7 linked regions of the Homo sapiens genome follow. The protein of the gene in region 5 interacts with the protein of the main gene of each other region in a pairwise test. Each region holds a gene or a part of one and is shown on either strand. Other genes may lie near its edges. The genes, in order: BNIP2, C5orf46, FXYD6, PEX13, PEX12, THSD7B and ACSL5.

What was found.
Region 1: the proteins of PEX12 (region 5) and BNIP2 interact in binary tests that used the Homo sapiens proteins (3 or more experiments, as listed by UniProt).
Region 2: the proteins of PEX12 (region 5) and C5orf46 interact in binary tests that used the Homo sapiens proteins (3 or more experiments, as listed by UniProt).
Region 3: the proteins of PEX12 (region 5) and FXYD6 interact in binary tests that used the Homo sapiens proteins (3 or more experiments, as listed by UniProt).
Region 4: the proteins of PEX12 (region 5) and PEX13 come close enough for resonance energy transfer, tested with the Homo sapiens proteins (one large-scale study listed by BioGRID).
Region 6: the proteins of PEX12 (region 5) and THSD7B interact in binary tests that used the Homo sapiens proteins (3 or more experiments, as listed by UniProt).
Region 7: the proteins of PEX12 (region 5) and ACSL5 interact in binary tests that used the Homo sapiens proteins (3 or more experiments, as listed by UniProt).

The regions. Positions count from the first base shown.
Region 1 is NC_000015.10:59,665,321-59,668,820, forward strand, and holds part of BNIP2 (BCL2/adenovirus E1B 19 kDa protein-interacting protein 2), read right to left. Parts: intron 2,819-3,500; coding exon of another isoform or gene 2,783-2,818; intron 1-2,782.
Region 2 is NC_000005.10:147,903,739-147,907,985, reverse strand, and holds the start of C5orf46 (uncharacterized protein C5orf46 precursor), read left to right. Parts: upstream 1-1,447; 5' UTR 1,448-1,484; coding exon 1,485-1,554; intron 1,555-4,247.
Region 3 is NC_000011.10:117,866,659-117,870,158, forward strand, and holds part of FXYD6 (FXYD domain-containing ion transport regulator 6 precursor), read right to left. Parts: intron 1-3,500. UniProt on the Homo sapiens protein: Associates with and regulates the activity of the sodium/potassium-transporting ATPase (NKA) which catalyzes the hydrolysis of ATP coupled with the exchange of Na(+) and K(+) ions across the plasma membrane.
Region 4 is NC_000002.12:61,027,720-61,031,219, reverse strand, and holds part of PEX13 (peroxisome biogenesis factor 13), read right to left. Parts: intron 1-3,500. UniProt on the Homo sapiens protein: Component of the PEX13-PEX14 docking complex, a translocon channel that specifically mediates the import of peroxisomal cargo proteins bound to PEX5 receptor.
Region 5 is NC_000017.11:35,575,772-35,579,886, reverse strand, and holds the start of PEX12 (peroxisome assembly protein 12), read left to right. Parts: upstream 1-1,315; 5' UTR 1,316-1,865; coding exon 1,866-1,991; intron 1,992-2,295; coding exon 2,296-2,849; intron 2,850-3,705; coding exon 3,706-4,105; 3' UTR 4,106-4,115. UniProt on the Homo sapiens protein: Component of a retrotranslocation channel required for peroxisome organization by mediating export of the PEX5 receptor from peroxisomes to the cytosol, thereby promoting PEX5 recycling.
Region 6 is NC_000002.12:137,409,045-137,412,544, forward strand, and holds part of THSD7B (thrombospondin type-1 domain-containing protein 7B precursor), read left to right. Parts: intron 1-2,564; coding exon 2,565-2,828; intron 2,829-3,500.
Region 7 is NC_000010.11:112,419,116-112,422,615, reverse strand, and holds part of ACSL5 (long-chain-fatty-acid--CoA ligase 5), read right to left. Parts: intron 1,024-3,500; coding exon 951-1,023; intron 670-950; coding exon 581-669; intron 292-580; coding exon 175-291; intron 1-174. UniProt on the Homo sapiens protein: Catalyzes the conversion of long-chain fatty acids to their active form acyl-CoAs for both synthesis of cellular lipids, and degradation via beta-oxidation.

The sequences.
Region 1 (3,500 bases), on a different chromosome or scaffold from region 5:
TTAATTATTGGCTAGACACAGTGGCTTACACCTATGATCCCAGCACTTTGGAAGGCCGAGGCGGGCGGACTGCTTGACCAGGAGTTTGAGACCAGCCTGGGCAACATGGCAAAACTCCGTCTCTACAAAAAATACAAAAATTAGCCAGGTGTGGTAGTGTGCACTTGTAGTCCCAGCTACTCAGAAGGCTGAGGTGGAAGGATTGCTTGAGCCCTGGAGACGGAGGCGACAGTGAACCGAGACTGCACCACTGCACTCCAGCCTGGGTGACAGAGCAAGACCCTGTCTCAAAAAAACAAAACAAAAACCCATCAAAAAGCTTATTTATTTAGTGGTGGGTTGGACATCAGTCATATCAAAATTTACGCATGTGGGCATTAGAAGGATTACATAATTACCACATAATAATTACAGACAACCCTTCAAAGCTAACAGTCTATTACTATTACATTTGTAGTGGTCTGAATAACTGATGAAGGGACCTTTAAAACAATCCGGTATTAGATAAAGAAAAATATTTTTCATATGTTTTTATTCTCATCACCCATTACTATGCCCACCTGAATATTAGTGAAACAGACCTAAAAGCCCTGGTCTGTGGTAAAGCCAAAGTAACATTTTAAAATATTTAAAATATTGTTATAAAAAATTTGGAATGTATTTCTGATAAGGCATGCAAAATATATCAAATCCTCTTAACATCTGAAATATCCTTACCAACTAATTTCATAATTATTTTTAAACTCCCCTGAAACATTTTAACAATCTGTATCTGCATGGCCACACTTGCATCCAGTTGTTTGAAAGAAACATTTTAAACATTTAAACTGCTATCCTTTTTCTGTCACTGGGGACACTGGATCTCCCTGTTGTCAACATTTCTTCAACCCTCTTCCCCACAAGCCCCTCAAGAAAATGGTTTTGCCCCTTCTTCCCCTGCTCCCCAAAAACCTGCCATAGGGACTCATAGCTTCATACTCTTCTTAGCACCACTACTTATCATATCATGCAGTTGTCACCTTAAATAAGCTCCCTTGCACCTAGCTTCTGTAAAGTTTGGTTTAGGCTGGGCGTGGTAGCTGACGCCTGTAATCCCAGCACTTTGGGAGGCCGAGGTGGGTGGATCACTTGAGATCAGGAGTTCGAGACCATCCTGGCCAACATGGTGAAACCCAGTCTCTACTAAAAATGCAAAAATTAGCCAGGCATGGTGGTGGGTGCCTGTAATCCCAGCTACTTGGGGGGCTGAGGCAGCAGAATCGCTTGAACCCGGGAGGCAGAGATTGCAGTTAGCTGAGACTGGGCCATTGCACTCCTGCCTGGGTGACAAGAGTGAAACTCTGTCTCAAAACAAAACATGCCTCTCTACCTAAATTTAATTTAAAAATTAAATTTTATCATTTTCAGATTGACAAAAATTTATTATTTTTTAAGACTAAAGAAACTACAAAAAACAGAACGTTTTTGAAAGATACATGTAATCATTCTATTTATGGTTAAACACAAGTAAAAAAAAAATCAAGATAAAATAGTGACAGGTTTCAAACAATATATTTAAATAAAAAGTACAAATTCCATATTTTTTCTGATGTCTAAATTACTTAACAGTATTAAAAACTTTTTTTAAAAAGGCTTAATACAGCATATTTTATCAACAAAGGCAATTCACTGTGAAATCTATGAAGCAGCTGGCTTCAAAATATTCTACAATTACAAATCATATTTTTAATTTCAGCCACTTGTCTGTCGAATGCACAGCAATGCCTAGAAAGGAATGTGAAATCAGCATGATCTAAAATCACTGTCTACATTTCTATGTTAAAGTGTTGGTTAAACTGTGAAGTGTCATATAGAAGTGTAAAACTGATTCTATCACAAAGTCTACTAAATTCTCACTCATCAACAGAAACAAAATGTGTTCAAAGTTAAGAATGTTCCAGTTAGTTACAGTTGGCTCCTTAGAATGGTCAAGATAATTACATATAAATCTCTCACCGTAACTCTTAAGATTGTATTAAACTATGTTTTGCTAATTTAATTGCCAATATTTTAAAGATCTAACAAACTAGATCTAAATTCTACGTTTTTCTAAATTATTATACAAAATTCTAAGTATTTTATACCCTTGCCTTTCATCATCTATGTCAAGGTATCAATAGATAATAGTTTGTTATGCTCAAAGCAGAAGTGTTCAAAATTAAATTTAAAATAGAAAGTGAAGTGTTTAACTGTTAAATGGGACACTGAGATTTTAGGTATTTTATCACATGTAGAATTTGACTGGTTAGCAAGCCATTTAATTTAAGCATAAAAGGAAACCAATGTTGGTTAGCCAAAGTATATATGCATTGCAAATATAATAATCAACCCCAGGGAAATAAATTGAGAACTTTTAAAAAGTCTGCAAAAATATTTCAAAAGCACAAGTTAGCGATTTAAAGAAAATGGTGAAACAGATAAAGTCTTAAAATTATTTGGTGTTCCAAATACCATTTTTAGTAATTTCTCTGGTTTCACCATTAGTACTTAGACTAAGAAGGAGAGAGAAGGGTCTGTGGTTTTTAATTGCTAATTGGCATCATATATGGCAATAAAACATGGTGAATCCAAGTCATATTCAGCCTTAGGAACTCTGGGTTCACCCTGTATTTGGAAGTTGGGGTACATTTATATTTGCAAATGCTATTATCTTTGTCTACAAGCTAACCAACCAATAAGGAAGAGTTAGTCTGCAATGCAAATGGACTAGTCTAGATGCAACCCAGTCAAGGTGTGCATATACCTTTTTTGTTTCTTTTTAAACTTTTCTTCTTCATACCTTTGTAGGGAAGAGTTATTTCAGTAAATATACATGTTATGAAAATGAATAAAAACTTGAAAAAAGCTACTAAAAATAAACTCATTTAAATTTTCCAGCAAAACCAAAAATATTTACTACATGATGTAGAAAGTAAAAATTTACTTAATAAATCTGACTTTCATACATTAAATAGACTAAAACCTCAGGTGAGCAGAACAAAGAAACTTTTCCACATGCATTGTAATACTCAGTTATTTATGTTAACAGCCTTCTACCAAGTCCAAGAAGTTACATGGAAGAATGTGAATCTGATAATCAGAACAGAATTTCAGTCACTGGAAAACATTAAGGTTATGATGATTTAAATATTTTTATTTATTTAGCAATATGATTATTCAATAATAATATTGATGATCAGTTTACTCAAATTTGTTGAGCACTATGTTCAAGTTTGGAGAATGCTCTTTAGTACTGATCAATTAGAGAAATCATCTCTTAGATTATAAGTAGTCTATAAAAGTATAACATGAATCACAACCGGAAATAATTTATCCTAGTTCTTCAACTGACAGCCTGAAGAAAATGCTAACTTAGGGGGATGGTGTGGGAAAATGGCTTCTTCCTCTTTTTCTTTGTTACACACACACACACACGCGCGCGCGCGCACAGTTATAAAATATAATACATAAAGAATGAGTAT
Region 2 (4,247 bases), on a different chromosome or scaffold from region 5:
GGGAAAGAGAGCATCAGGAAGAATAGCTAATGGATGCTGGGCTTAATACCTAGGTGCCAGCCAGGCACGGTAGCTCACGCCTGTAATCCCAACACTTGGGAAGGCTGAGGCGGGCAGATCACGAGGTCAGGAGATTGAGATGATCCTGGCCAACATAGTGAAACCCTGTCTCTACTAAAAATACAAAACTTAGCTGGGCATGGTGGCACATGCCTGTAGTCCCAGCTACTAGGGAGGCTGAGGCAGGAGAATCACTTGAACCAGGGAGTCGGAGGTTGCAGTGAACTGAGATCGCGCCACTGCACTCCAGCCTGGCAACAGAGCGAGACTCAGTCTCAAAAAAAAAAAAAAAAAAAAAGAAAGAAAGAAACCTAGGTGACAGGTTGATCTGTGCAGCAAATCATCATCATGGCACATGTTTCCCTATGTAACAAACCTGCACATCCTGCTGGCTACATGTGTAGCCTGGAACTTCAAATAAAAGTTGATGGAAAAAAAAGAGAAAAATAAAAGTAAAATAAATAAGACAGTTTATGTTGTCGTTTTCTGTTTGTTTTGAGACAGAGTCTCACTCTGTCACCCAGGCTGGAGTGCAGTGGTGTGATCTCCGCTCACTGCAATCTCCGCCTCCCAGGGTTCAAGCGATTCTCCTGCCTCAGCCTCCCAAGTAGTTGGGATTACAGGTATCTGCCACTACGACCAGCTAATTTTTTGTATTTTTAGTAGAGACGGGGTTTCACCATGTTGGCCAGGATGGTCTTGAACTCCTGACTTCGTGATTCGCCCACCTCAGCCTCCCAAAGTGCTTGGATTATAGGTGTGAGCCACCGCGCCCAGCCAACACTTAGTTCTTATACAATGGGGTCAAGTGTGCTATAGGGCAGATGATGAAGTAACAAACTGCCTGGAGAAGGGTGGAGTGGTTATCATGAAGGTATCACAAAGAAGGACCATTTGAACTGAGGAATACGTAGGAGTGATCCGAAGGGAGACAAGGAGGAGGGTATCTGAGGAAGAAGGAAGAGCAAGAGCAGACGCATGGGGTGTGAAAGGGCATGCCCATGTGGGAACAAGGGATTGTCCCAGAGCACGAGGGAAGGCATAGAGTGTAAAGGGAGGGTGTAGGCTTGCCTTGCCAATCTGATTTGTTGCCTGCTGCTTGGCACTGACGAGCAATTCTACCTGATATCCCTTTAATTATCAATGCTGGCCTTGAAACTAGCCTCAAGAGATTCACTCCAGAACCCTTTATAGATACAAATTTTAAAAATCAAGAGGGTTTTTCTTTCCCTATATGTAAAATGTTTGGTTTGAATGATAGGGTATGTCTCATTAGTACAGATCCAAAAGCAAGCTGTGCAGACATCTTGTGCAACAATCTAAATTCCAAAGCAGATGATGTCACCTATCTATGCCCTATAAATGGAGCATTGTTTCACATGTATCTGAACAATTTATCTGCACGAATACCCCGTGCTACCAGAATGGCTGTCTCAGTACTTCGCCTGACAGTTGTCCTGGGACTGCTTGTCTTATTCCTGACCTGCTATGCAGGTAAGTGCTTCTGATCACAGCCCATGAATTGTTCAGTAGTTAGCAGTGACTAGAGAAAGCTGATGGCACTGATTCAGAACATAAAAGAAAGAAGGGGTCTTTGGGCACTCCAGAAAGAGCACTGGCCTGGGAGACAAGAGGTGTATCTTCTAACACAAAGAAAGTAGAATTTTAATAAAAACCTAGCCTCTATTTTCAGTGGATGTATGAAGTTTGAAATTTTTTTATGTGCTCTTATGATATAATGACACTATTCTAGTATAAATTCCATGGGAGCTGACTGGCATTTATTTTTTGATAATTATTCCTAATAATGTTCATTGGTGAAGAATATGTACTCTGGAATAAAACTCCTGTACCTGGCTCTACCACTAACCAGAAATGTGACTTTAGGAATGCTATTCAATCTCTCTAGGCCTCACATATAAATGGGGACATTTAACTTTCTCGTAAAGTTATCATGAAAATTAAATAAAAGGAATGAAACAAATTGGAAGGGTACCTGGTTGATAGTAAGCATGCAATAAATACTACCTGCTATTGTTGTCATGTATAATCTCATTTGGTTCTCATAGTAATCCAATGATGTAAACATGTACAGTTTTATCATTTTCCTTTTTGCAGGTTAATAAACAGGTTGCAGAGGGCAAGTTACTTGAGCATACATACAGGTGAAAGTGGCATCTGGGAGTGAAACCTAGGTTCCTAGATTCTTTCTACTATTATCGAGCAACTATTTCTTTCCCACCTTTTCCAAGCACATAGAAGCTCATGCTGTATGCTGCCTTCTCATTAATTAATTTACTGTTTGTCTGCAAAAGTCTGTGAGCTCCATTCAGAATGATAGACCAGAAAACAGAGGGAGTGCAAACATTTAGTGACAGAATCCTTTGAATGTAACTTGGCTGAAGAACACACAGACAGACATTACAACAGAATTACTCTAGACATGGCCACGGATATTATTCAGTCCATTCTACTCCTAAAGAAATCACTACAGTGAAGTGAAAGGAGAGATTTGATACCAAGACCAGGCACCACCCTGTCTCTTATAAACTCTGAAACTGGTTAAATCGTTCACTGCTTTGAACCTCAGTTTCTTTATCTGTAAAACGGGATAACTATCAACTTCACCAGGTCAAATGAATATGCTTTTTAATTACTTTGTAAACTATTAAAACTCTACAAATATCAGCAATACTGTTTATTAAGAACATTATATTCACATTCACTAAGAAACTCAACAAAGTAGTTACTGTAAATAAAGGCTATCCCATATAATACTTGAAAAAAGAAAATATTAAACTATTGACTTTGAAGATTGTTTCTAGGATATCAATCGTTTAATATTTTAATAGCATTTTTAAAATTTATATTATCTTCTAAAGCACTAGAGGAGAAAGTGAATTATAAATCATTTTGCTGCTATTATTATTAATAGTAACAATAAAACAGATAACATTTATTTATTCATTCTTTCATTTATTATTTATTTATATAAGGTAAGTTTATCTTGGGATTGGTACTACGATAAGTGGTATATATATGATATATGTATGTATATATAATATAGATATATGTATGTGTGTGTATATATATATAGATATATAATATATAAAATATCTTTCAATCCTGACAACATATGAGGAAACTGAGAGATGCAAAGTTAAGCACTGTGTGCAAGTTTACATGGCTAATTTTTTGTTAAAGGCAGGAATCAGACAGATCTATAAAACTCCAGAGCATGCAATCCATCACACTTTAATACCTCTCAATATATATGGGGTTCACAAGCTAAGGCCAAGATTTTGATTTCCGCCCACTCCAATCCCAGGCTTCTTGCATCTTGAAAAGCCAGGTTTTAGTGTCATATTAAAATAACAAGTCAATAGAATTTATTATGCAAGTAGCCAGATAGAAACACAGGAGAAAAAATCTCATCTTTCATGCAAGAAATTACTGCTTTGCATTTGGCAAATGTCTTTACAGAACAATTGTTTGGAGGTTGTATTATACAATGTGAATAATGTGCTTTGTGGAGTTAAAAAAAATTAGGTTCAAACCCTGGGTCAGCCACTTTCTAGATGAGTGATTTCAGGTGAGTCATTTAATTTTCCTGAGCATCTGTCTTCTCTGCTGTAACTGTGATACCACTGCTGAGCTAAATGACGATTAAGGCATGTGCTGAAAGCACTGATGGAGTACCTGCACGATAGGCACCTTACACATGAGTTCCGCTTCCGCCTCCTTCCCACAATAAAAACAAACCAATCCTTCTGAGTACCTGGGTTGCCCAGCACTTTATGTGAAGGTCATATCTACAGTTGTCTTTTTTTTTTTTTACCTTGACTCTTAGCATAACTATGCACATAATAGTAGGCTCAGGCCAGGCAGGATGGCTCACACCTGTGACCCCAGCACTTCAGGAGGCCGACGTGGGCAGATCACTCAAGCCCAGGAGTTCGAGACCAGCCTGGGCAATATGGCGAAACCCCGTCTCTACACAAAATACAAGAATTAGCCAGCTGTGGTGGCATATGCCTGTCGTCCCTGCTACTCAGGAGGCTGAGGTGGGAGGATGTCTTGAGCCCAGGACGTTGAGCCTGCAGTGAGCTGTAATCACTTCACTGCCCTTCAGCCTGGACGAGAGAGTGAAGCCCTGTTTCAAAAATAAAACATTAAAAAAGTAGGCC
Region 3 (3,500 bases), on a different chromosome or scaffold from region 5:
ACAGGCACTCCTGTGTCCCTCTCAGCCTCTGTCCATCTCACAGCTGCTGAGTGCCCCGCTGCACTTTGCCTAGCAGAATACCAGTGCATTTATGCTGAGTACTGGATGGAGTCCCAGACCAGTTGTAGGCTATCCTGTCCACTGGAGCTCAGCTCAGGGTGGGTGCCAACAGAACTACTAGCCGGCAGCCTTTCACCGTGGGCTGCAGAGCTGCAGATCACCTTTTTTTCTGGTATGGCTCAGAATTAGATGAGGGTGTAGAATCGAAATAAAGGCCACCCCTACTCAAAAATGTATCTGCCTCCACAACAATTCTTCCCAAGGAGAGACGTTTAAATGTCACGGCATCACTACAAGAGAAATACTCCCAATCCTAACAGTCATTTATATCTTGGCCTGAGTTATTTAATCAGATTGCTTTCCACAGCAGAGAAATTTGCCTGCATTTAGGTGGAGAAATTGGGGGAGAAAGAGCGTACTTTTGGAACAAGGTGTAATTTTGGAAACAATGGCACCCTTATCCTTCCAGTAACCAAGTTAACAAATATTTATTGATGGCCTAATGCTTTCCAGCACTTCACTCATCACTGAGGACACTGCAGTGAGCAAGACAGACACAATCCCTGCCTCCCTGCCTGACGGAGGTTACGGCCTCACCAAGTTTCCGGGGCTTCCTCTCTCCTTCCCCATCTCCACACTGCATCTGTGGCAAAGTCCTAGCCATGCTCGCACTTGCAGTATCTCTCTAATTGGAACTTCCTTTCCGTCACTCCTCTGGGTAACTTACCTAATAGTGCAGTAGCTGGACCCATCTTTAACCTCCTCCTTCCCCTCTGTGCTGGACACTGATTACTGCAGGACTAACCTTTCTAAAGTGTATTCTGAATACCTCCCTCCCAAACTCAAAGGCATTCGGTGGTGCCTCTACGTCCTATTTAGTTTTTTAAAATCCAAACTTCTTTCTGGCATATGAAAATCTCTAAGTGTACCTCTCTTCTACCCCTCCAGTATCTTCTCATTACTTTCAGCTAAGATGGTCTACGTTCCATCTTCTGCCACATGTGTCTCTAACTGCGTGCCTTTGTATATTCTGTTCCTTCTACTTACAATGCCCTTCCCTTCTTTGTTTATTCCAGTTCTCAACCCTGGTTGTACCTTAGGATCACATGAAGAGCTTCAGAAAAAAAAAAGAAAGAAAGAAAGAAAAGAAAAAAGATGCCTGGAAATCAACTCAGCCACATTCAGCTCTAAACCCGGGCAGTGTAGCCAAGGGCAGTGTAGCCAAGGTATCGGTAATTTTGAGAATCTCCCCCACTCATTCTGATGTGCAGCCAAGGTTAATAAATGCTATCTTTGTCCAGCTGCCACTCCACGTAGACCCCTTTCTCCAGACTCCAAGAGCGCCTGTCGCCTGTCGTTGGCACTAATTTGGCGCATAGCACATTCTGTTTCATGCTCGCTTCATTAAGATTCTCCTATCGGAAAAGTCTCTGTGCTACCCCATGATCTGTCCTCACCTGGGATGGTGAGGACGGCCGAAAGTGCTGGCTGATGGTTTGGTATGTTTGTCTCGAGGAGCGGAGAGAACACAGCTCCAATCACCAGGCCTTGAAACTGTGCTGCGTGGGGGGCATGAAAGGGATGGAAAACCCAGTCCCATCAACGTCAACAGCAATGAATCATCCTGATTGTATCGTCTTGGTGTGATGTGATGAAAATGGCACTTTCCCTCTGTGATCTTCCTCCCTAAAACCCATCACTCCAGTCTAATCATGAGGAGAACATCGAACAAATCCCAACAGGGCCACATCCTACAATACACCTGACCAGTGACCCTCAGAACTGTCAAAGTCCTGGGAAGCCTGAGAAAAGGTCACCACCCAGAGGCACCAAAAGAGGCACGACTCAATGGAGTGTGGTATCCTGGATGGGATCCTAGAACAGAAAAAGGACATAAGGTACAAACGAACGACATTTTAATAAAGTGTCAATGTTAGTCAATATTATTGTACCAATATTTGTTCATTAATTGTAACAAATGTACCACCCTAATGTAAGATCGTAATAATAGCAGAAACTGCATGCCAGGGGAGAAAATTGGAACTCATACAATCTGCCCAAGTTTTCTGTAAATCTAACTGTTCTAAAAAGATAGTCTATTCGTAGAAAAATAATAAAAATTCAAAAATTCAGTTAAAAGCAATCCTCAACCCCATCCCAGCACTCCGGCTCCTGCTCACCTTTCCGGCATTTGATGAATCTGTAACAGGAGCTGGGCTTCTCTGGTTCAGAGCCTCAGAGCAAACAAACAACCATCAAGGGCTTTTAAAGCTGCCTTTTAAAACAAGTGCTTTGGGTCGACCAGAGGCCACAGATCCATCAGTGGAAAATGCAACCAGTTCCCTCAATTTGCATTTTAAATGCCCATCAAATAAACAATTAAGCATCAATTATTGTTAAATCACCTAACTTGAAATGATTGCCCGCCCCGCCCAGCCAGCAATGTTCCAGAGAGGAGTCGAGGAGGAGACTGGACTCAGAGACTGGCAAGGGAAAGGACAGAGCAGAGGGTGGTGAAATTCCAGCAGTCCATGGCTCAAGGAGGCTGCAGACACTGCTGAATTTCCCAAGCTGCCAGGAAGGCAGCTGGACAGTCTAGGAGCAGGACAGGGCACCTCCGCCCAGCGCATCACTGTGGCTGACACCTCCCAGGGTGGCCTTTCCCTCTCCTGTCAGGCGCCTTCAGTAGCCCAACGGCTCGAATGCTGCCCCTCCAACCCTCATTCATGGAAGAGGGGCACTCCCACTGCGAGGGTGCTGGAGGCTGAGTCGTCAGGTACCCTGGACTCAACCGGCCCAGACCCAACCCAGCCCGGCTGCACAGGGTGGAGCGGGAGAGGCAAAACTCTCTTGTCATATAGCAGGGGACTTATTTTTAACCTGGAGGCACCTTTATCTTTAACATGAAAACATGAAGTTCTTTCTAGGGAAGAGAAACTTGGACAGAGGAAAAAGAAGAAGAAGAAGAAGAAGAGAGAGAGACAGAAAATAACTGACTGTGAAAAGAAATAAGGCCTCTTCCTTAGAAACAGAAACAGAATTCACAAATCACAAATCCAGGCCTGTTTTCTGGAAGTCTCCCTGGAAAGATCCCAAGCTGGACCATAAGCGGAGGCATGGTGGAGAGATCTTAGCCTCTGGTCTTTCAGTGCGTGCCGGCCTGGCTTTGTCCTCCAGCTGCATGCGGGTCACTGTCATTCCAATCACATCCCCTCATCCTTGGCCCTCTCTGCCCACATCAGATATTCTGAACTGGGGCAGCCCCATTCTCTGGGCCCCAGCCTGGTCCGTGGGGCCCCAGCCCCCTTCCCAGGTCTTGCTGTCACCTCACCATCACTGACAACCGTGACACTGTGGCATCCCAGCCATCACCCATGGACTTCTCACAACAGCCCTCAGAAGCAGAAACACAGAACAGTACTGCGAGGCCAACTCAGGCA
Region 4 (3,500 bases), on a different chromosome or scaffold from region 5:
TCCCAGGCTCAAGTGATCCTCCCACCTCAGCCTCCTGAGCAGTTGGGACTACAGGTGCATGCCACCACACCTGGCTAATTTTTTATATTTTTTGTAGAGATGGGGTTTCACCATGTTTCCCAGGCTGGTCTCAAACTCCTGGGCTCAAACGATCCATCTGCCTTGGTTTCCTAAAGTGCTGGGATTACAGGTGTGAGCCACTGTGCCCAGGCATCACTTTAAAGTTTAAAATTTAATAGGTTTTAGTACACTCACAGAGGTGTGTAACTATCACCATGTCTAATTCAGAAGATTTTCATCACCTCAAAAAAGAAACCCCATATTCATTAGCAGCTATTCCCCATTTCCTGCCCACCCCTCCACCCATCTTTGGCAACCATGAATCTACCTTCTGTCCCTCGGTTTGTCTATTCTGGACATTTCATATATAGTTAATTCTTGTTATTTAAGATAGTTATATCCTGTAAAGTTGCTGTGAACTCTGAACCAGCAGATACCAAATCACTGCTTCTTTCATCAACCAATCAATACATATACTTATTTTATATGTTTCTGTTTAAAGTCACTTTATTCCAGGTATATTGTTAACTCATTAACAACTCATGGCCAACAGCACAATAGCCCATGCCTGAATGAAGCTTATCTAACACCTGTATTTTCTCTGTAAGGCACACTACAGCATTCCTGTGCTTAGGAACACTAGAGATCACTTCAGCACTATGCTTGGGGGCCATTTTAGACAGCAAAATCACCATAAAAAAATGTGAAAAAACCTGGCACTAAACAGACTTTGATAAAGACAACTGTTTACAGCATGAGAGCTGAAATAAGAAACCAGAGTGTTGCTTTTTTGTCTCTCAGTTGTCCCTCAGTTGTCAGCTGAGGGACAACTCAGATTTTTACCTGATGTACGTTTGTCCTCAAATGACTGTGATAGTGCCAGGAATATTGATTTTCAGATTACAAATAAATTTTAGTGAGCAGACCAATTTGAAAATACAGAATCCACAAATAATGAGGATCTATGGTAAATGGACTCATACAATACGTAGTATTTTGTGACTGGCTTCTTTCACTTAGCATAATGTTTCCAGGGTTTATCCATTTTATAGCATGTATCAGCACAGGCAGCCCTTGGTATCTGTGGGGGAGTGGTTTCAAAATCTCCTTCAGATACCAAAATCCATGAATGCTCAAGTCCTTAATATAAAATAGTATAGCATTTGCATATAACCTATGCACATCCTCCTGTATACTTAAAATCATCTCTAGCTTATAGTATCTAATACACTGTAAATGTATGTAATTACTTATACTGTAGTGTTTAGGAAATAATGACAAGGAATAAAGTCTGTACATGTTCAGTACAGATGCAGTTTTTTTTTTTCTGAATACTTTTTTTTTTTAAGAGACAGGGTCTCACTCTATTGTCCAGGCTAGAGTGTTGTGGCATGATCATAGCTCACCGCAGCCTCCAACTCCTGGCCTCAAGTGATCCTCCCACCTCAGCCTCCCAAAATGTCAGGATAACAGGTGTTAGCCAACACGTCTGGCCTATTTTCCGAATATTTTTGATCCACAGTTGGTTGATCAGATGTGGAAGGCCAACTGTATTTCATTAATTTTTATTGCCAAATTATATTTATTCACACATCAGCTTATGTATATTGGGGCTGTTTTTACTTCTTGGCTATTACAAATAATGCTGCAATGACCATTTATGTACAAGTTTTTGTACGGACATGTTTGCTGGGTTATATGGAAACTCTATATTTAGCCTTTTGAGGAACTGCCAGATTGTGTTCCAAAGCAACTGTACCATTTTACATTCTCGCCAATGTATGAGGATTTCCAATTTCTCCACATCCTTGGCCACATCTGCTCTTATATTTTTCATTATAGCTATCCTAGTGGGCGTGAGGTGGTATTTCACTGTGGTTTTAATTTGCATTTTCTTGACGGCTAATGATGTTGAGCATATTTTCATGTGCTTATTGGTCGTTTTACAATCTTATTTGGAAAAATATGTATTCAGATACTTTGCCCACTTTTAAGTTCGCCCTCTTTTTTTTTTTTTTTTGGAGACAGGGTCTCCCTCTGTCATTGAGGTTGGAGTGCAGAAGCGCAAACACAGCTCAAGTAATCCTTCTGCCTCAGCTTCCTATGTAGGTGAGACCACCACTCCCGGCTAACTTTTTGGTAGAGATGAGGGTCCCACTTTGTTGCCCAGGCTGGTCTCAAATACCTGGGTTCAAGCAATCCTTCCACTTCTACCTCTCAAAGTGCTGGGATTACAGGCATGAGCCATTGTACTTGGCTTAGCCTTTTTATCACTGCTTTTTAAATTATTGTGCTACATGAGTCAAAAATATCTTTAAAAATTTTTTTGAACAAAAATTCAATTAAGGCTCACACACTGCATTTGGTTGGTTTGTTTCCTTTCTTTTCTAAATGAGAACAATCCCATTTTTTCAAATATCCCTGACCTTCTAAAGAGTCAACCCAGTTTTTTTCTAGAAATGTCCTACCCCCAGCCCAGGCATGGTGGCTCATGCCTGTAATCCCAGCACTTTGGGAGGCTGAGGCAGGCGGGTCCCCTCAGGTTAGGAGTTCGAGACCAGCCTGGCCAACATGGTGAAACCCCGTCTCTACTAAAAATACAAAAATTAGCCGGACGTGGTGGTGGGTGCCTGTAGTCCCAGCTACTCGGGAGGCTGAGGGAGAATCGCTTGAACCCCAGAGGCGGCTGTTGCAGTGAGCTGAGATCATGCCACTGCCCTCCAGTCTGGGTGACACAGTGAGACTCTGTTTCAAAAAAAAAAAAAAAGAAAAGAAAGAAATGTCCTACCCCCAGATTTGTGTTTCCCCCAAGTGTTGTTTAACTTGTACTCTTATTTCGCCTCCTATTAAATTAAGATTGCATTTAACGGTTTGATTGCAATCAGGTTCAATATTTTTTGGCAAGAATAATTCATAAGTGATGTTGTTTACTTCACACAGTATTACTTTAGGAGGCGCATTTGTGAAGCTAAATTTGATTAGTTGGTTAAGGAGGTGACTATTAGATCTTTCCATTAAAATGTATCTTTCCCTTTGTAATTAGTATATAATCTATGGGATGACAGTTTTGTACCACAAATATTCTATTCCTCAGCAACTGTTCATTTGATAGTTTAGCATCGATTCATCATCCTTGCCTGAAACAAATATTAGATGTGGAACTGCAAAATGGTAATTTTCTAATCCAGGCTAAAGTTTTAATTTAGACTTGTATCGTAATATTATAAACAAGCTACTAGAACTCTATTTTTTTTTCTTTTATTGGATCTGATATTTAAAAATGGAACAAAACTTAAAAGGAGCCAGTGAACGGCCAGATAGTGCAGTGCATTCAGGCTTTAATGAAACAGTTCTGCTCCCAAGTATAAGCAATAATAGAGAAAACAGAGAGACAAACAAACAGACATTATCTAGATTTAACACAAGACAGACTTATGGAA
Region 5 (4,115 bases):
ATTTCCTGCTTGATTTAGTTGATGCTACCTCTCAACTTTGTATTTTTGCTATTCACTTAAGAAAAGCTTGTACATAACAGTTACTATTAAACAAGCACCTAATATGTATCCAGGTGCTTCATATGGATAAACTATGTCTAGTCTTAAAACTCTGTAAGGTAAAAATCATATATCAATATAATGTCTTTTGGTAGAGTAAAAAACACTTTTTATAACTATAATTAAGGACAATTTGTAAGGTTTTCTCTCCTATTGGAATAACTAAATCCAAACCTTGTTTTTGAGGGTTCTCATTATGCAAACCAATTATTTTTATAACATAAGGGCCTCTAGGGCAGTAAACAATACCTTCTATTCCCAGCTATTTAGCCCAGAGGTGGCACTTCCCAGAGGAAGGGAGGAGAGGTGGAACTCTCATCCAAATTCAATAAGGCTGTGTCAGCCAACTTCAGCGAGACAAAGCTGTACATAACATAAAAGCACTTTACAAACCTTAAGGTAAATCACATTCATTTTGGTATAAAAACGGCATGAAAGGAAACTTTCTGTCAAGTGTCCCCAGTGCATGCTAGTTACAATTCATAAAGCTCCCTCTGCGTTAGTACTGTATTCATATCGCTGGTGGTGACATATACAACTGTGTTCAAGGATGGAGACCATTTTCATCCAGTATAGCAAGTGCATGCAGTTATGCTTGAATATAGCCAAAACCTGGAAGACGTTAAACTACCAGCTTGGATGAAAATTAACCGTCTCAAGTACTGAGGAACAAGCATGAACCTTTCTCAATCCAATCATCTTTCCTTATAATTGGCGGCAATAAATCTAAGGCTCCTATCTCCTGCTATGTCGCTTTAAATCATTTCTGGAAGGCTAAGACATATAAATTAACCACCATCCCTGCCGCACGCGTACAGCAAAGTCCTTTCCACCTCCAGATTCCCTTCCTCCCACCGCCCCTAGCTTCATCGCCTGCAGGAACACAGGGCTCAGCAACGGGCCCGAGCTCTGGCTCCCGGCGCCAGACGTCTGCGCGGTGCCCCAAACAGCTTGTCAAAAAGACCTCGCAGAGAGAGGTTCAGAGCTGTAGCTTTCCAGCGAGGCTACCATGCAGACCCAGCTACGAAAAGTAAACCAAACTAGCCAAAACCAGCCCACAAGGGCCCTCTTCTGTTTCAGCGGGGCGGGAGCGGAAGCTCAGGTGGGTCATAGAGTTCTCTAGTTCTGGTTTCCGGACCGCATTCGGAACTAGAGCGCCTCTCTTCCGCCAGGCATCCCAGAGGTCCTGGTGGTTTCATTTCCGGGTGCGGCTTCTGTCATAAAGCGGAGACCTCCCTTCAAACGTGGCGTCGTGGGTTGTTTGCGCCTCGCCTGGGGTCAGCGAGCAAGGACGGGCGCGGGCGGGGATACTCAAAGCCAACAGCTGGAGTCAGCCCTTGTGTCCCGGGCTCACAGTGGCACGACTGAATCCTCAGAGTCGGCTGGCTTTTGAGCTCTCACGATTGGGGAGGAGGGGGCGTTTCTGGTTCGCAGCTCCAGAGGATTGCGTTCCTTCCCCCATACCTGTCCCCCACAGTCACGCTCTGCCCTGACGTGCAGCATTTGACAAGTTACCCCCTCGCCACATACTACTTCCACCCACGTCCGAGTTAACTTTGTTCTTAACCTTCTTGAGACTACCCTCGGCCTCCAGGTCTTTTTTTCCCAGTTCATTTTTGCCCATAAGATTGAGTTTCGAGTTTCAGATATCATGCAGAAAGTTTACCTTTAAGACTGAGCACCCATCTGATACTCTTCCTCCCGAAAAAGTTCATGCTCACGAGAGAGTTTGTGGGAAAAGTGAAAGCCAGTACACGCAGGAAACTATGGCTGAGCACGGGGCTCACTTCACAGCTGCTTCTGTGGCCGATGACCAGCCATCCATCTTTGAGGTGGTAGCACAGGACAGTTTAATGACAGCAGTGAGACCCGCTCTTCAGCATGTGGTCAAGGTAAGGTATTAATTCTTGGAAAGGTTTTAGGGACAACTGGGTAAAAAACAAACGAATAATTTGTGCTTATTTGGTAGCCTAGCGTTTGAAATAGCCAATTTGCAAATAACTTGTATCCCATGACTTAAGAGTTACTGAGTCTCTGTTATGTGTAGAGACCTGTACTGAATACCCAGCATTTCAGGGTCCAACAGTGACTTATTTAAAACAAATTGTGTAGACTTTAGAGGAAAAGGGGGAATGTAAATAGGTGTAGAACTTGTGTAATGGAATGAATTTCACTTATTGCTTTATTTTGCTTTAGGTTCTTGCAGAATCAAATCCCACCCACTATGGCTTCTTGTGGAGGTGGTTTGATGAAATCTTTACTCTGCTAGATCTTCTGCTCCAGCAACATTATCTGTCTAGAACCAGTGCCTCATTTTCTGAAAACTTTTACGGCTTAAAGAGAATTGTAATGGGGGACACTCACAAGTCTCAGAGATTGGCTAGTGCTGGTCTCCCAAAGCAGCAGCTTTGGAAATCTATTATGTTCCTGGTTCTTCTTCCCTATCTGAAAGTGAAGCTGGAGAAGCTGGTTTCTAGCCTGAGAGAAGAGGATGAATATTCTATTCATCCCCCTTCTTCCCGCTGGAAACGATTTTACAGAGCTTTCCTGGCAGCCTACCCATTTGTGAACATGGCCTGGGAAGGATGGTTTCTTGTACAACAACTTCGATACATCCTAGGAAAAGCTCAGCATCACTCACCACTGCTGAGGCTGGCTGGAGTTCAGCTAGGTCGACTGACAGTTCAGGATATACAAGCTCTGGAGCACAAACCAGCTAAGGCCAGCATGATGCAGCAACCAGCCAGGAGGTAAGGCCTTAACATTTCCAAAAGATCTTTAGTTAGTAAATTCGAAAATCGTATCCCAGTTTTGTAAAATTCACCTCCCTGTTAACTTTGTGGCATTTCATAGAGTCATAGAAAAGCTATTCCTTGTGTCCATAAAACAAGGACTGTCATCCTGGTAACCTTCATCATTCTAGGTATACTTTAGTGCATACTTGCTATGTCCCAGGCCCTGTGCTAGGTGCTTGCTTTACGTACATTATCTCAATCCTCAACACAACCCAATGAAGTAAATGTATTAGCTCACAGTTGAGGAAACTAAACCCAAGCAGTTAAGTACCTTGCCAAAGTCACGTAGGTACATAGAAGGTGGCAGAGCTGGGATTCAAACCAAACCAATACAATTCTAAAGACTGTGCTCTGTGAGCCACTGCACCCAGCCTAAGACTGTGCTCTTAATCATGATGCTGTGCTCCTTCTAGTTCATATTTGTGTTCTCCTACAAGTTCAAATATATACATTCCTCAATACTGCTAAGTTTTTTATTAAGTGAATTGGGTTTTTTTTTTTTTTTCTGGATCACTATCTTCCACTAAAAAAAGGGAGGTCTATATAATCAAATTCTCTGATTTATCTTTCAAAACACAAAACCAAACCCTAATCATGTTACTAAAAACAAAGCTTAGCTCCTATGCTCCTAAAATATTGTAAGTTAGAATCACTTAGAATAGATCCTTAAGGAGATAGTACCAGTCTACCAACCATTCAGTCCCCCAGTGATTCTGATGAAAAATGTAAGAATTGCATTTATATTAGTCACTTTGTAATGATACCTAAATAAAGTTTCTCTCTTTGCCTCCTTGTTCTTTTCTCCCAACAGTGTTAGTGAGAAGATAAACTCAGCTCTGAAGAAAGCTGTTGGGGGTGTTGCCTTATCCCTGTCTACTGGCCTTTCTGTGGGTGTATTCTTCTTGCAGTTCCTTGACTGGTGGTACTCATCTGAAAATCAAGAAACCATCAAGTCATTGACTGCCCTGCCTACTCCACCACCACCTGTACACCTAGACTATAACTCTGATTCTCCCCTCTTACCCAAAATGAAGACTGTGTGCCCACTGTGTCGTAAAACCCGGGTGAATGATACTGTTCTTGCCACCTCTGGCTATGTGTTTTGTTACCGCTGTGTGTTTCATTATGTGAGGAGTCACCAAGCTTGTCCCATCACAGGTTATCCAACAGAAGTACAACATCTGATTAAACTCTACTCCCCTGAGAACTGAAAGGGAATCA
Region 6 (3,500 bases), on a different chromosome or scaffold from region 5:
AGGCAGATACAAATGGGCACAAATCATATAGGTCCTTGATGACCCTAGGAGAGGAGTCTGGATTTCATTCTGTACTATGGTAAGCCACTTCAGAGTTTTCAGTAGACCAGTGATTTGATCAGATTTGTACTTTGAAAGCTGGCTCTGACTGCAATGTGGTGGACAGATTGAAGGTAGTGAGGTATGATGGCATCAAGATCTTGGAGAAATCTGCTGTAATTTCAGCTGGAGATTTGCAGGTGGGGCTAAATATGGGTGACACCCATTGGAATGGAAACAAATGGACTGATGCAATGAATCTTTATGCATTTGAAGTGATATACCTTTGTCATTAATCAGATATAGGGGGTTCAACAGAATAATTCAGGGCATTCCAACTTTTAACTTGGTGATATTGGTAGAATTGAGAAACGCAGGAGAAAGAAACATTGTGATGTAAAGAGAATGGGTGTGATTGGTTCTTTAGATGTAGATTTTTCAGTCTATGGATTGGAAGCTTGAGCAAGAAATCTTGGATGAAGACAGTCATTTAAAATTGAAGAAATATGTATGATAATTAACACTCTTCAAATGGGTGAAGTTGTAGGATCAGAAGAGAGATGAACCTAAGATGTTGCCTTGGGGAACCCCATCAGTTTAAGGGAGGTAGAGAAGAAGAATAGTTCACCAAGTAAAAATAAATAATATATGGCAAGAGAGAGGTGGGGGCATGGGGTGAGGGTGAGGAACAAAAAGATATGTTACGATGGAACTTGGAAAGAATATTTCGAGAATGAAAGTGTAGTCAATACTCTGAACTATCATTGAGTGATTAGACCTTAAAGATAAGGAATAAAAGATATTCCAGGGCTTTGGCTTTGTTTCTTGTTTTTGTTGTTGTTTGTTTGTTGCTTGATAACAGTGGTTTCCAGAAATAAGTAGACAGAATCCAGGGTTAAGTGGGTTTAGAAGAGAAATGAAACTGAAGAGATGAAGACTGAGAGATTCAACAATATTTTATGGAAGTTTGAAAAAAGGGAGGTCTTGAACCTGCTAAATGCTAATAGGAAGGAGCCCCTCACTAATTATTGATATATCTCTCAGCCAGTAAATTTTCATGGCTGTGGTGGAAGCTGTGCTTTTCAAACTTATTCTAGTGTCCTAATGGTAGAGGCAAGTGAATATCTTCTATCAGAAGTGTAGCTGAATCTACTACCAGCTCAACTTCAGGTCCTGCAGAAATTCTTTTTTTTTTTCTTTTTTGAGACAGCATCTTGCTCTGTCGCCCAGACTAGAGTGCAGTGATGCGATCTTAGCTCACTGCAACCTCCACCTCCTCAGTTCAAGTGATTCTCCTACCTCTGCCTCCTGAGTAGCTGGGATTACAGGCACGTGCCACCACACCTGACTAATTTTTGTATTTTTAGCAGAGATGGGGTTTCACTATGTTGGCCAGTCTGGTCTCGAACTCCTGATCTCAAGTAATCCTCCCCCAGTGGCCTCCCAAAGTGCTGGGATTACAGATGTGAGCCACCATGCCCAGCTTAGAAATTCTTATTTATTGCAAACATAAGCATCATGGCAGACCATAGAGCCAATCATCCCATCAGCAACTCTAGAATTGTATGTAATGCAAACCATGTGGCAATGAGAAAGTAGCCCATGCATCAGCTTGTATCAGGCATTTCAGAAAAGCCATAAACACAAAAAATAGACCAATAAAACTGCCTATATATTTTATAACCAGCCATGACTCTAGCTAATGACTCATTAATGAGAAAACAAAAGGTGGAATTATTAGATCTAGGAAAATTTTTAGTAATCCAGAGGAATTGTGTTAACAGCAAAGTTGAATCAAGTTACAGGCTGATTTAGAATCCACTAAACATGATTACCAAGTGTTTACAGCTGTGAAAAATGACACTGCATTGTCTTACTCAGAGATAGGACCAAAACTAACAGGTCCATCAAAGTGAATTGGTAAGGTAAAGTCATATTTCAGAATACTTAAGTTAGAAGAATCTCTCAAAATGAAAGAGCTTTTTCTCTGATTAAATTATCCAGTATGACTTGATCATTTATTTCAATTTATTGTTTGTATAAATGTTTGGGAGCTGCCTGATGGCAGAGACCAAAATGAGTTTAACTTTGTCCATCACATTGCAAGAGACCTCTACTAAGAAGAGAGGGAGTTAACCACTTAGATGCTTTCATTGGTTCCCTGGCGATCGTTAGTCAAGGAGAATGGGGACAGGGTTATCAGTATGTTTTTTCCAGCAAACTTACAGAGAAAATGTTAAATAAATTAACTGGAATTCTCTAGCTGTAGCAAACATCTTCTAAATATTTTATGCCACTCTCAAACATTAAACCATTTTCTACTTTTTTCAAATTAACTTGAATTTCACAGTTGTTCTGGGAGTTGTTTCCGTTGTCTCAGGATTTACTTTCATGACAAAAGAGTGAAGAAAACAAAGGCTTTATTTTATTTAATATTCTAAAAGATTACAAATACAAAAGTGTGAGTGACTTTTAACAAAACAGCAGATAAGCATTTAATATCTTAATGTCTCTTGTTGGAACAGGGAAAAGCAGAAAGAAGGAGAAATGCCAGGATTCTGACCTTTACCCTCTAGTGGAGACAGAACTATGTCCTTGTGATGAATTTATATCCCAACCTTATGGAAACTGGTCAGATTGCATTCTTCCAGAAGGCAGAAGGGAGCCTCACCGAGGACTGCGGGTACAAGCAGACAGCAAAGAATGTGGAGAAGGCCTGCGCTTTCGAGCAGTAGCCTGTTCTGATAAAAATGGAAGACCTGTTGACCCCTCCTTCTGCAGCAGCTCTGGTAAGGAGATGGATGGAGAGTAACAGATGAGAACACTCACACACAGCTCGGGAGGTTTGTCTCAGGTCTAGAATTAATAGCTCTGCTCTATAATAATTGTTTTAATTTTCCTTTGTCAATAACACATTGTCTCTCATAAAATATGGACAGATGAAATGCATACATCTGTATCTCAATGATTATCTGGAATGTGATGGTGCTGGATCCCTGACTCACTTCATTCTCTAATTCACCTTTGTTTATTAGCCGCCTGTTTACTGGTGGTCAGCACTGCTGCTCCACTTCACTGAGAAAGCCAAAGCCAAATACAAACAAATATGTTCCATGCTGTTTTTTCATGCTCTGACCATATACATAGAAGGCATCAGAACTTGAGTGTCTTCTAATGTAGTTGAGAAAAAAAAAAATCAATGAAAAAGTTGATTTTAAAAGTTTTACCGTATAAAGGCCAGGCGCGGTGGCTCACGCCTGTAATCCCAGCACTTTGAGAGGCCGAGGCAGGCGGATCACCTGAGGTCAGGAGTTTAAGACCAGCCTGACCAACATGGAGAAACCCTGTCTCTACTGAAAATACAAAATTAGCCGGGCGTGGTGGCGCATGCCTGTAATCCCAGCTACTCGGGAGGCTGCGGCAGAATTGCTTGAACCCGGGGGGCAGAGGTTGCAGTGAGC
Region 7 (3,500 bases), on a different chromosome or scaffold from region 5:
ATGTTCTTCTCTGGATAGTATGAGGAAGTCATAAGCCAGGTAGGGTACAAACCTAATCCCCTCCAGCTGCCTCAGCTGATTAACCTACTTGCATTTCTGCACCTCTTGCTATAAGCAGATTGTTCTTCTCAGTCCATTAGCATAGACTTCCAGGAGTTCTGATGATATACCTACCGGGAGCCAGCGACCAATGTCTCCTGTGTGAAGCCAGCCATCACTGTCCAGGGCTTCCTGTGTCTTCTCAGGGTCCTTCAGGTATCCTTTGAACACGTTTGTACCCTTGATGCAGACCTGCACAGCAGACATACAAGGCGGTGACAATAGCAAAGGCTGCTCCTCCCAGCGTGGGCAGTTTATGAAACACCTGCTCCCCTTAAATCATTTGATGGCTTCCACTACACTGTGAAGAGCACCAGATCTAAGTCTCCACTATAGGGGATAGGAAAGTGAAGTTCAGAATGCTTAATTCTTTGCTAACAATCTCAAAGGGGCCAAATCCAAGTTTGCTTACAATTATTTGCTCTTTCTGATATAAACCTCCCCACCATGACTGTCTGACCACAGGGCATGACCTACCCACCTCTCCTTCATTATTCACTGTAAAGTAGTTCATGTCAGCCACATCTTCCAGCTTCACGTAATTGCAAGCCAGGGGCACCCCAACGTGACCTAGAACATACCGTGCTGAATTAGCTGAGAAACTCTTGCATGGTGATAATTCCAGGCACATTTCTAAGATATTTATGAATTGACTCTAGAAGAGGAAGACTGAAAAATCACCTGGCACCAATGCAGACTAGCCAAGATAGGCAGGCCTGGACCCAAAACTTGAATTTTGCATTTGCCACATTAGTCCAGAGAACTGAAGTTATCTAAACTCCAAAGTCCTAGTTCAGTTAGAACCTTTCTCCCAACCATGGCACCTCCTGCCCAGCAGATGGAGGACTTACCTGATGTCCAGTCCCCAGGTAATGTAAATGTACAGCCACCTGTGCATTCTGTTTGACCATAAGCTTCATACACCTGGGAAACCAAAGAAGAGCTTTTAGACTTACTCAAGATAAAGTGTGAGCTGGCCACGTGCTATGGTCAAGACACGAGGAAAGCAAGGTCTCTAAGGGTTCGAGACCACTTAGTGTCTTAAAACCTTGAACTTGGAGGGGGCGGTGGCTCATGCCTGTAATCCCAGCACTTTGGGAGGCCGAGGCGGGAGGATCACCTGAGATCAGGAGTTTGAGACCAGCCTGGCCAACATGGTGAAACCCCATCTCTACAAAAACACAAAAAAAATTAGCTGGGCATGATGGCAGGTGTCTGTAATCCCAGCTACTTGAGAGGCTGAGGTGGGAGAATCTCTTGAACCTGGGAGGCAGAGGTTGCAGTGAGCTGAAATCACGCCATTGTACTCCAGCCTGGGTGACAGAGCGAGACTCCGTCTCAAAAAACAAACAAACAAACAAACGAACAAACAAAAAACCTTGAACTCATACCCAAGCTGCAAAGTATTTACTACCAAGCCTTCTGGCCATTCAGAAACCAAAAGGGTCTGGAAATAGACCAAAGCATAGAACTTTATATGAAAATGCAGCATTTTGGCCAGGCATGGTGGCTCATGCTTGTAATCCCAGCACTTTGGGAAGCCAAGGCGGGAGGATCACCTGAGGTCATGAGTTCGAGACCAGCCTGACCAACATGGTGAAACCCCATCTCTACTAAAAATACAAAAATTAGCCGGGCCTGGTGGCACATGCCTGTAATTCCAGCCACTCAGGAGGCTAAGGCAGGAGAATTGCTTGAACCCAGGAGGCGGAGGTTGCAGTAAGCCGAGATTGTGCCATTGCACTCCAGCCTGGGTGACACAGTGAGCGAGACTACATCTCAAAAGAAAAAAAAAAGAAAAAAAAGAAAAGAAAATGCAGCATTTCAAGTAGGTGGGAACATGTAAGTTATTCACTAAGTGGTGTGCAACCCAATAGCAATTGAACTTGACCCTGAGCAATGGAGCATCACTGAAGGAACTGAAGAAGGGGAGTAGTATTTTTTAAGGGAAATAGCCCCCACTATGATATAAAACAAGGGTGGGCAAACTTTATCTGTACAGGCCAAGATAGTAAATATTTTCCACTTTGTGAGCCATCTGGTATCTGACTCAAAACTTGACTCTGCCAAAATAGCACAAAAGCAGCCACAGTCCATATATAAATGGATGGACATAGCTGTATTTGAATAATATTTTTAAAATAAAAACCAGCTGCAGACTAGTTTTAGCCAGTGCTACAATTTGCCAATCCTTGGTATAGAAGATAATCTTGACTGGAGAGAGGCTGGGGGCAGGAAACAAGTTCAAGGGCTGCTGCAATGGGGGGTGTGGCCTGTGATAGGCAGAGTTGGGAGAGAGAGGAAGGCTTAGAGAAGACATTTCGGGAAGGAGTTAGCAACAGGACCTGCTGATCTATTGGTTTTAGGGGCTTAAGGAAAGGACAGTATTAAAAATGGCTAAGAGGATGCTAATTTGAAGGACCTCAGGCCTTGGCATCATTCTGGAGTCTCTTTTGATTGTGGTTATACAGATAGGGGACTCATGAGGAAAAGTCTATGCCTGTTTTGTTCATGCTCTGCATGGTTGGTTGAATGAATGAACTAATTATCCATCTGGGTGAAAATTGAGACAATATGCATGGCCAAGCACTTGGACAAATTTCAGGTGGAACTGAGACTTAAAAGGAAAAAATGGAAAATGGTAAGTTTGCCAGAAAATAAGGGTGAAACAGTCTTATGAAATATTGGGGGTTAGGAAGTCCTGTCTAAGCAGTTTAAAACCTACAAATAGAAAAGATTATTTAGTTTGACTATAAAAACATTGGAAATTTTTATATGGCAATACACAGGGCAAAAATGATGAGACCAGGAAAAATGTTTCCAACATGACAAAAGTTAATATTACAGGTTGACTATTCTAATCCAAATGTTTGAAATCCAAAATGTTCCAAAATCCAAAACTTTTTGAGTGCCAACATGATGTTCCAAGGAAATGCTTTTTGGAGCATTTCAGATTTTGGATTTTCAGATTCAGAATGCTCAACTGTTTTATAATGCAAACATTACAAAATTGGAAAAAAATGCAAAATTCAAAACACTTTTAGTCCCAAGCATTTCAAATAGGGAGATACTCAACCTGTATTACTCTGTGAAGAACTCTTAGAAATATAAAAAAGGACCAAATTATCTTTTGCCTGTTTTTCTATAAGGAAGTAATAGAATAATTCATGGATAAAATATACATGTCAATAAGCAATAGAAAGATGTTTGGTGTAAATAAAAGAAACAAAACTGTAATAAGATTTTTCATTTATCTGATTAGCTAATATCTGAATGACTGATAAAGTCTGTCACTGGCAAGAGCATGGGCAAATAAGGCCTTGTATACTTGCAGAAATGTGCAAAAAAGATCTTTCTGGAAGAAAGTTTGATAATATACATTATTACACACACACACACAC